Linked DNA regions of Homo sapiens: region 2 is linked to region 1. The links come from fine-mapping of genetic effects on gene expression. A gene starts in region 1. The other region holds a variant in brackets. All regions are shown on one strand. Distances are between the middles of the regions.

Region 1 (5,375 bases):
TGTCCAGCTTCCTCAGTTCCTGACTCACCATCAACACCACAATTGTCCAGGTGCAGAAAAGGGGTGGGTGGGGGAAGCTGTGGCTACTAAAGGGTTCGTGTTTTCCCCCATCACATCCACCTGTGTGTTCTCCGGAGCTCTTAACTCAGAGCCTGATACAGGATTGGTGCTCCTGAGAGTGACTTATCTTCCCCTCTCCCTCTCCTTCAGATGTGTCCAAGGCCTTTCACAACTTGGCCTCAGCATAAGAGTTCTGGGTCTCAAACAGGCAGGCCCACTGCTCCAAGACCAATCTTCCTGCCTCCTTCCCTGCCTCTGCTCCGCCCACTTCTCTCTCCAGGGGCTCCCTTTTCTGCAACACCTAAGCGAGTCTATACCCTGCCCTTGTTTCAGTTCTTCTTTGCCTGACATCCTCATTCCCCATCGCCTTGTCCGTGGGATCACCACCGGCTGCAGGGCCGTTCATCTTGTGATGCTGCCTGAACCATGACCATGGGCTGGCTTTCTCACAGTGTCTCCAACTAATTTAGTGAATTGCTTTATCTCTTCAACTAGACTGCATCTTTCCCTTCCTCCCTCCCTCCCTCTCTCTCTCCCTCTCTCTCTTTCTTTTGAAGGAGTCTCCCTCTGTTGCCCAGGCTGGAGTGCAGTGGTGCAATCTTGGCTCACTGCAACCTCTGCCTTCCAGGTTGAAGCAATTCTCCTGCCTCAGCCTCCCAAGTAGCTGGGATTACAGGCATGCACCACCACACCTGGCAAATTTTTGTATTTTTAGTAGAGACAGGGTTTCACCATGTTGGCCAGGCTGGTCTCAAACTCCTGACCTCAGGTGATTCGCCTGCCTTGGCCTCCTAAAGTGCTGGTATTACAGGCGTGAGCCACTGCGCCAGGCCAGACTGCAAGTTTCTTAACACAACCCAAAACAGCCCAACTAGTTTAATTAAAGAACAAAATTAAATCATAACCCCCAACAAGGCATTACTATATTTCAACAAATCTTAGACATATTATAAGAACACATCTGACTTCTGAAAAGTTAACATGTGAAAAGTATGTGTCTTAGATGAAATGTGGTGTTATTTCTATCCTGCAGATGCTCAATAACTAGAACCTAACACTTTTCCAGATCCCCTGGTTAAGTTGCTGTGCCCTAACACACCAGGCACGCTCTGCCCCGGGATGTTAGCCTTTTTGGTTCCCTGTATCTGGAATGCTCTTCGCGCATGGCTTGTTCTCACCTCCTTCAGATCTTGGCTCAAACGTCACCTTCTCAGCGAGGCCTTTCTTCACAATGTTTAACATTTGCAACACCCCCTCCCCACGTTTCATTCTTTTACACTGATTTTTCTTTACGGCATTTACCAGTCTAATATTCTATTACTTATTTGTTTATTGCGGGTGAACCCCCACTAGAATGTCAGCTCCAGGAGGGCAGGGATTTTGTTTATGGCTGTTGTCATTGGCACATCGCAGGCAGTCAGTAAGGATTGTTGAGTGAATAGCGTCTGAGCTTTACCGGGTCAAGGATGTGTGTGTTTCCCCGCTGCTTGTATCCTCAGTGCCTAACACAGATGCTGGCAAACAGCGGGCCCGTAATAGATACTCAGTGACTGGGGATGGATGAGGCGCCTATGAGCCAGGTCACTTGCTAAGGCCATCAAGGCTAGCAAGGGCGAAGAGCAGGGGACCAACTCAGGTGACGCCTGGGCCTTTTGTCCCTCTGAGCAGGAGCTGCCTGACTCTCCTGTTTGGGGGTGTAGACTTTTTTGGAAAAACTTCCCCCAGTCTTCCCAGTGCGCAGTGTAATGCTTTGCACGTAGTGTGGCTGCAACAAATATTTATAATGTGTTTTAATCCAGCGTGTTATTGCAACTAGCCCACAGCCGCTTGAGCTCCTCAGGGGTAAACTGGCATGCAGCTGTCCGTTGAACCCTCGGAGAAGTAGTGAACAAACAGCACAAAGCGCGCCCGCCCTTCTACAAAGAGCTTTTCCAAAATCCAGGCGGAAGAGCTTTCCTGCCGCTTGGGCACGTTGACCATGACCCCCCTCCCCGGCCAGACGACCTCTCTCCCGCCAACCTTCCCTTCTCTAGATGGGGGACAGGAGGGGAGGGAAGCCCTCCCCTTAAGGACCTCCGCTGCGCGGGAGCCGCCGGGAGGGGTCCCCCTCCTGGGTCTCGAGCCCGGCCGGGCGCGCGGGAGCGGGGAGCGCGCGGTGGCTCCGCGCGGGGCTGCGCGCGCGCGCCGGCCTCGCCTCCTCGCCTCCTCGCCCGTTCCGGAGGCTACGTGCTTTCTTTGTCAATGAGGCGCCGCTCTGAGCTGCGGTAGCACTCGCGGCCCGGGAACCCGAGCCGGAGCCGGGGCTGGAACCCGAAGCCCAGCGAGGAGCGAGGAGCGAGGAGCCAGGACAGCGGGGCGCCGAGGCTGCAGCGGCGGCGGGAGGGAGGGACCCGAGCGCGCCCCGCGGCCGCCACCCCCGTTCCCGGCAGCCTCGCCCCCTAGTTCTGCAGGAGCCGGCCCGGGGGAGGGGGCCCCGGGCGGCGCCCGTCCCACCCTCGCCGCCCCAATCGCGCCGGCGCGCGGCGACAGGCACCGTGGGAACCCCGGCCCGCACCCGCCGCGGCTCCATGCGGGCCCGGCCCCTGCGCGGGTGAAGCCGCGGCTCCCTGGAGCCCGCCCCGGGCGCGGCAGGACGAGCGAGCCAGTCGCGCCGCTCGGCGCCCCCTCCCTCCGGCGCCCGGGCCGTGGCCGGCGATGCCCGGTGAGGACCGGGGCGCCGAGGGCTGGGCTCCCCGGCGCGGTGCAGAGCGAGGCAGCGGCCTGGATGTGTGAAGCGTCCCCATGGCTCCGCAGGAGGCCAAGCCTCAGGGCTCAAGGGAAGCTGGGCCCGCGACGCGGGGGCGCGGGGGCCGGCCCGTGGCGCGTGGGCTTGGTCGGGCTGCCTGGGGAGCCGCGCGCTGCACGGGTGTGAGGGGCCCCGGGGCCGGCGCGTCCCACGATGCGCCCCCGCGGCCACCGACGCTGCTGCTGGGACTTCTGCTGCTGGCGGCCCTCCTGGAGCACGGCCAGGCCGACCCGGGTAAGCGCTCGGCGGCGGGGCGTCCGCGGAGGTTTCTGGAGGAGCGGGGCGGCGGGACGGGACCCACACCTGCCCAGGTGGCGGTGGAGAGGTATTGGCAACACCGGCCCTTTACTGCTGCAACAGTAGGCGAACTGTCAGAAATCTGTCTTTCGGGAAGGCACTTTGGGCGGGGAAGAAAAAAAAAGGAGCAATCGCCTCTTCTTTTTGGACAAGTTGTAGAACCTTCCTAGTGGTCCCGCAGGCACGCTTTATTTAGAGAAAGATGTGTGTTTAGGACACCTTAAACGGGAAATGTATCATTAGAACACGTTTCAGGGTGGCAAAGTCCCTGGTATTTTGGGCTCTCTGTTGAGTGTCCACTTTGTCTTAACTGCATGAAATGGCTAGAGAGTTTTAGGCAATCCGCGTGTCGGCTTCCCAAATATCAACACAGTTTCTCCTGTGTTGATAGCGGAACCCTTTTCTTTTGGGAAGGAGGTCTCTCCAATAATTGCTTGCACCTTGCAAAGGGATGCAGGCGCTCATTAAGTATATAATCCACTGTTTGCAGGTTAGTTAAAAATAGTCATGCTTGGCTTGTAGACTTCCAGCAATCCCCAGGAAATAGATTTCTGTAATTCCTTGGACAATTTTGAGAAATCTGTTGTAAGTATTCTAGGTGGGGGTGGATTTTTCTGCTAAGTGTGCTTCAAAACTTAAGCTGTGCAGTAAGCAGTTGTCCTGGAAATAATAATGATTACTGCCTGCACTTGGAAAGGGCAGGCTTTTGTGTTTCTGACGAAATTCTGAGCTCTTGATACACTGCCTTATCAAGGAATATATTTCTCACTTCAGATAATGTGTTCCTGTAGTTTTGCATTTTTTAGCAAGGACTAATGACTTCTTCTTTCTCAGAGTACCCCCTCCCCCAAATTAGATTAAAATTCCTAATTGTAAAGGGGCTGACATTGTTTTAGATAAGAGAGTTTTAGGTTAAAAATATTTCTCGTCTTCAGCAGCTTAATTCAGAGCCCATTTTCCTTCGATTCACTTAAAGAGTCACTGACAGGTGGTGCTTGTGCTTGCGAGTTACTGTCAGATAATGTTCTATTGCGATTATAGTGGTTACAAAGTTCAGGAATCTTTGGATGTGTGCCTCAGACTTGAGAAAAACCTCTGACGAATTTTAGCCCCCGATTTTTATGCCTGTAGCAGTTTTTAGTGATGTGTATTTGGCATAATTGTTAAAAGATAAGGCCTGAGAAAGACCCACGTAAATACCTTGGTATTCATTGGCTCAGAAACATACATCCTGTTTTTGATTAAAGGATATCAAGTCCTTGGTCGTTTTTGTGAACTGCTTATGAGATGTTTGCTTTGGGATGATGTTCATTTGTTCAGCCATCTGTAATATGTGAAACTGGCTTTCATGTGTTGTTCTTGTTCAGCCTGATGTTGGGTGATTTCCTCGGATCAGTTTTGAATTTCTGATTTCCCTTCTGACCTTTGTACCTTGAGCCTTCTGAACCTCCCTGACTTTCCTTGGCTCCTCTTTCAGACCGCCAGAGCCTGATTTAGAGGACTTCTCATCCACATTGTTTGGGTTTAGCCCTGGTGTCCTCTTTCTTTTTCCTTTCAGTGTGGTGGTCATGGGGATACGGGGCTGGGAAAGATGCTTTGATTACAATGATGGTAAAAATAATTAAAAGTTGATGTTCCTCCCCAGAGTCCTCTCCGTCTTTCTCCATCTCATCCGAGCGACTCGTTGCTTCCTCTATGCTTTTTGGATGCACTTTCTGCTGTCCCCCTTTATGACCAGCTTCCCGTGGTCCAGCCCACCTGCGGATTCACAGTCCACCTCTGAGCTCCATGGTTTTCTGTGGGTTTGCCACTGATTCAATTCCATGACTCAGTGGAAGGGTTAAACACTGGGTTCCCTGTGTGTAACTCTTACCTCCTATCTGCTCTCATTTGTTCTCTGATTTCCACTGGAGGCAGTTTCACCCCAGGGTAGGTGAGTCCTGGGCCTAATGCAGGGCATCCTAAGGGGTTTGTGGGAAGAAGTGGTGTCAAGAGGGAGGCAGGAGAATGAATGACAATTTCTGGGGCCTTTGACTTTCTGCAAACAACCTAGTTTGGAACTTTTTCTGAGGAGTCGCTGCGGTTTGGTGTTGCCACTCATTGTAGAATGCGTCCGACCCTGAGATGTCTGAGATCTTACTCAAAGTGCTGGCTTGCTACAGTCCCATCATTTACATGGCTGCTCTCCCTTGTTGTTTAAGGAAGGCTAAGCCAGACATTTGTCTTGGTTGAA
Region 2 (5,375 bases), 140 kb after region 1:
CTGGGGCTGTGAGAGCAGATGCTCAGCCATGGGGGAGATGACACAAGTAGGTTTCCCCACGTGGGTGGTGAGCAGGAAATCGTCAGCAAGGGAATCATGAGTATCTTTGATTCATCAGGTGTGGAAATGGTTACTTTGCATAGCAACTGCAGCGTGGGATACAAGTCTGTTTTCTGGCCCATCTCTGTCAATCCTGCTGATCTTTTCCTCTTTTTCATTTGGTTTCTCAATCAGTCTTTAACCTCCTCCCTTTGCTTCTCCTTGCTTCATTTTACCTCCTCTATCTCTGAGTCAGTGCTCCAGAAAAGTAACGTGATGCATCTGTTGGTAGCAAGAACACTATTAGAGGGAATCCTCTAGTTCTGGTGCTAGACCTTTGGCAAGTCACTCAAGCATTATTGGTCCTAGCTTCATCTGAAATTGAATGCAGTTGGACCAGATGCTAGAAGAAACCTCAGAGATCACCTTCCCCAGAGATGCTAAACATCTGTCCAAATTCATGCTGCCATTCTGTACTACAGCACCCAAGGCAGACATTGCTAATTGATCCCAGAACCCTTCCCTGCCAATCCAGGACTGTGCTTAGAATTCTTCATAACAGTCTAGGCAGCCACTACCAATCAGCTGGAGGTGATTCTTTTTTTTTTTTTTTTTTTTTTTTTTTTTTGAGACGGAGTCTCGCTCTGTCGCCCAGGCTGGAGTGCAGTGGCGCAATCTCGGCTCACTGCAAGCTCCGCCTCTCGGGTTCACGCCATTCTCCTGCCTCAGCCTCCCGAGTAGCTGGGACTACAGGCGCCCGCCACTACGCCCGGCTAATTTTTTGTATTTTTAGTAGAGACGGGGTTTCACCGTGTTAGCCAGGATGGTCTCGATCTCCTGACCTCGTGATCCGCCCGCCTCGGCCTCCCAAAGTGCTGGGATTACAGGCGTGAGCCACCGCGCCCGGCCTGGAGGTGATTCTTGAGATGTGATCAGCTATATCTGAGCGAGAAATCTGAGCAACCAAATTACCACAGCTATATCTGAGCAAGAAGTTGAGGCCCAGAAGTCTACCAACTTTTCTTACTCCTATCTTCCTTACAGGGATGGATATGTGAAGCCATTATTCCTAATTCTCTGAAGTTATGAGGGAAAAAATAAATTCCCTCCTCTGCCTTTTTCTTCCTAATTATTCAGTCTTAAAACAAACAAACAAACAAAAAACACCTGTTTTCTTTCTGACCAATCCAACCTTTAATTTCTCCTATGGCTGAAGAATTGGCAACTTTTTTTTTAGCAAAGGTATGGAATCAGCCACATTTGTCTAAGCTCCCCAGAATTAGACTGGCTCACTTTGCAACTGTGTGGTGGCAGGCAACAGTGAGAGTTATTTTACTTTTTGAAAATATGTTTTCTGTAGTTATATTTAGACTGAAGAAAGATCCTTGCATTCTCAGCTCTAATTATATTCAATGTGCCTAATTGCTATTACTCTCAAAGATGATATTGAGTGAGGTCGCATCTTCAATTCACGTTTCTCATTTATTTTTACAAATGACACAGCTTTGGAACATCTGCTCTGCCTATAGAACACTCATTTTTGCAGATGATGCAGCTGTAATGGCTGGTGGCAGAATTGTTTCCTCGATGACGATGCTAGGGTATGTCTCTCCCTTTCCGCCTTTCCTGCTAAGATGCTGTTTTTAAATTCACCTTCTGGAGTTCATTTCCCCAAGATAGATGGGTTCACACTTCTAAGGCAGCATATTTCTATTATTTCTGCTGAAGGGCTGCCTCCTGGAGTAGTTAACAATGGCAGCCACCCTGTGGCAGGTCTACCTTATGTAACGCCTCTGTAGCTGGGGGAGCTGTAGGTCTGGGAAGAAAGGAGACTAATGCAAACATAAAGATGAAGGGAAACTTGCCAAGATCATACCTAGGGTAATATCCATATCCTGAGTGCATATGAGCCTAGAGTTGGCTTTCTAGTAAAAAGAATCCTTGGTGTTGATAGAGAATGTGGCCATTATGCCTTATTCCCCCTTGGAAAGGGGTAGTGCCCTAAGCAAATGAGGAAGAGTTGGGTTCATATAGACTGAATTAAACTCCTTTATGTCATTATTATTAATGTTTAATTCCAATTTCAAAATGTTATAAGTTAATAAAAGCGAGGACATAAATGCTTCTATTTCTGGAATCAACCACCCATTTTTAGGAAATACAGAGGACAGAGGAACATGTTGAAATGAGTCATGAATGTGTATCACCACAGTCCAGACTGTGGGAAACTC[T/C]GCAGGTAAAAGGGCTCAGGCTCTTCTTCAGGAGCAAAAGGAGTGGAAGGGGAGAACTTAGAGATTAAGAAACTTAAAAGACATTGCAGGCAGGCGCGGTGGCTCACACCTGTAATCCTAGCACTTTGGGAGGCTGAAGTCGGTGGATCATGAGGCCAGGAGTTCAAGACCAGCCTGGCCAAGATGGTGAAACCCCATCTCTACTCAAAATACAAAAATTAGCCAGGTGTGGTGGTGGGCACCTGTAACCCCAGCTACTAGGGAGGCTGAGGCAGATAATTGCTTGAACCCAGGAGGCAGAGGTTGCAGTGAGCTGAGATTACACCATTGCACTCCAGCCTGAGCAACAGAGCAAGACTCTGTCTCAAAAAAAAAAAAAAAAAAAAAAAAAAAAGACATAGCAAAGGGAAAATTTTTTTCTTGGGCAAGATTAATCTATGTCTACAGTGGTAAAACTACTGAAAAAATTTCTTGTTTTAAAACATGCTAAATTAGCAAGTTCTTGATTGGATTTCAGCTTCTCATGCTACAATTGGGAAACTGAGGCTTAGATAAAGTGATTTGCTTTACATGTAAATGGGAGCATGTCGGGGAATTGCAAGCAGAATCCAGATCCCCTGGCCCATTGTGTGATGTTTTCCCTCTTTCCCTTGAGTATGATCCTGTACTATACATTAACTTTCTCTTTGAGTTCATTGAAATAGATAAAATCACAGCAGAGTCAACTACATATTGGAGACTACTTTGTGTTCATCTGTTCTTTTAATTGCTTTTCAAGGAAAGTTGGCTCTGGCTTTGTCCCTTGTATAGTGGCTGTAAACCTAAGAACTATGTCATACTGTGACTTTTTAATTCATAGAATAAAGTTACTATTTTGCTTTCTACTTGCTATGATATTATAAAGTCTGTTTTATTCTTTTGTGCTATTAAAATGTTCTAAAGTTGCCATTAAAGCTGTAAAATCTAACTTTGGTTATTAAATTTTATTTTCCCCTAATAGTTCTTCTGGCATTGATTTAAATTACAGGTTGAGTATTCCTTATCTGAAATGCTTGGGAATAGAAGTGTTTCAGGTTTCAGATATGTTTTGATTTGGGAATATTTACATTACACTTATCGAGTATCCCAAATCTGGAAATCTGAAATCCAAAATGCTCCATTGAGCATATCCTATGAGTATCACATTGACACTCAAAGACTTTTGGATTTTGGAGCATTTCAGATTTTGTATTTTTGGATTTTTGGATTTGGGATGCTCAACCTGTACTCATTTTCACATGTGTAGCACATTTTCTTGGGGAATCCAATCTTAAATAGACTGGATGTTTTGAACATGAGAACTGTCTAATGTAGGTTAGCATGAAAAATAACCAGTTAAATACTCAGAATTCTGAATAAAGATGTGTATCACTACCCTGCAAGTGATCTAGCCAACAGATTTACCCTACTGAAATTAATTTAGTGTTAAATTATTCAATATTTCAATCCATTTTTTTTGAGAGAGTAGATTTTAAGGAAGACTCTATAATAGAAATGTTGATTTCTATATGCTCCAGTGATATATATTTGTCATAACTTATTTTTATTTTTGAGAAGAGCCAGGATTTCAAGCTCAAATACAAGTAATTAGCAACTTAACCAATGTGCTACAAGAAGCATTTGATTTCTCTTGGTATTTGTAAGAAGTCAACAAAACATGTCACTATTTCACCAGCAAATGGCTGTAACAATTATTTACTGTGAAAATAATAGTGTTAACAATTACTTCAGGGTAGGAGATAGAATTGTTTGTTATTCATCTTGAGGGTAGGTAGTAGTTTATGTTTTTAACTTCAAGAAGCTGTGCATATATAATGATACTGAACAAGAAGGGTGTAAAATCACAAGCTATATAAAATTCTGACCTCAGAACAACTGTTCTTTCTTTAGAGGGGGGTACATCAGAGAAGGAGAGCATTTTCCATCATTTAAAAAGTCTTCATTTAGGCAGTTTGTCCTTGGCCATTCAGACAAGCCCCTCACAACCTTTAATGCCAGAATGTTCTGTGGAGGCTGCCACTCTGGTGCCCTCCTCACATTTCCTCTTTGCCTCCCCGACCCCAGCAGTAAGAGGTACGAAATATCCTTCTCTATGATACTTACCTATCAAAGGAAATATCGGGTCGCCATCTTTTTTTTTTTTTTTTAACAACTTTACTAAGGAATGACTGACATACAAAAAGTTGCAGATATTGAATGTGTATAACTTGATGTGTTTGGAAATAGGTATACCATGAAACCATCAAACCATCATCACTATCCATGCCCTGAACTTATCCACTATCTCCCAAAGTTTCTTCTCCCTTCCTTTTTTTTCCTTTTGTGGTAAGAGCACATAACATAAAGATCTAGCGAATTTTTAAGCATACAATACAGTGTTGTGAATCATGGGCCCTATGCTATACAGTAGATCTCCAGATCTTATTTATTTTGTATAACTGAAATATTGTATACCCTTTGACCAACACTTCCCCATTTCTCTCCCTCAACAGCCCCTAGTAACCACTATTCTACTCTCTGTTTCTGTGAGTTTGGCTATGTTAGATTGCACATATAAGTGAGCTTGTGCAATATTTGTCTTTCTGTGTCTGGCTTATTTCACTTAACATAATGCCTTCTTCAAAAAAAAAAAGGTAGTTCATTGATTTTCAGACTTGGAGCTCTATGAGCTCATGGACCAGTGAAATGAAAAATTTCAGAAGCTCAGTTTAGATTTACTAACTTCTCATTTGGTCAAGTAAGGGCATTAACAAAACAATAGCTACACATGCTGTCATTATTGTTTAGAAAACAAAGGAAATATTGACACTAAAATGGAGGATTATCCATTAGACCCAGAAAGGCAATTGGTGGACATACACCCCCCACCCCCAACACACACACACACACACACACACACACACACACACACACACACACACACACACACTCCCTCTCTCTCCCCCTCTCTCGTAATTGTTTTTTCTTGTTTTGTCTTGGTTGGGTGAAAACTTTGCATCAAGGATTGAAGTTTGAACTGGCATTCAGAAACCTTGCATTGAGTGTTTTGTTTTTAAAAAGTAACAT

Alleles and levels. Alleles are on the strand shown, and positions count from the first base shown. SD is a standard deviation of normalised expression in the study named.
As copies of C replace T in region 2, the expression in sun-exposed skin of the gene that starts at base 2,298 in region 1 goes up (small effect, 0.21 SD a copy in GTEx).

Evidence for each region. PIP is the estimated chance that this variant, and not a neighbour inherited with it, causes the effect.
Region 2: its variant is the best candidate, but not a certain one, in a credible set for the expression of KIAA1549L in sun-exposed skin (GTEx, PIP 0.70).

What each region holds. Positions count from the first base shown.
Region 1 is chr11:33,373,811-33,379,185 of GRCh38, forward strand. KIAA1549L (KIAA1549 like) reads left to right here and starts at 2,298. Exons shown (of 21, transcript NM_012194.3): 1 at 2,298-3,079. The coding sequence starts at 2,842. RefSeq lists silencers at 2,184-2,243, 2,274-2,513, 2,654-2,753, 2,884-3,163.
Region 2 is chr11:33,515,503-33,520,877 of GRCh38, forward strand. All of the region lies in intron 1 of KIAA1549L (KIAA1549 like), which reads left to right. Among named protein-coding and RNA genes, the nearest start is that of KIAA1549L, 140 kb to the left of the region's middle. RefSeq lists an enhancer at 1. The variant T/C (reference allele first, on the strand shown) is at 2,271.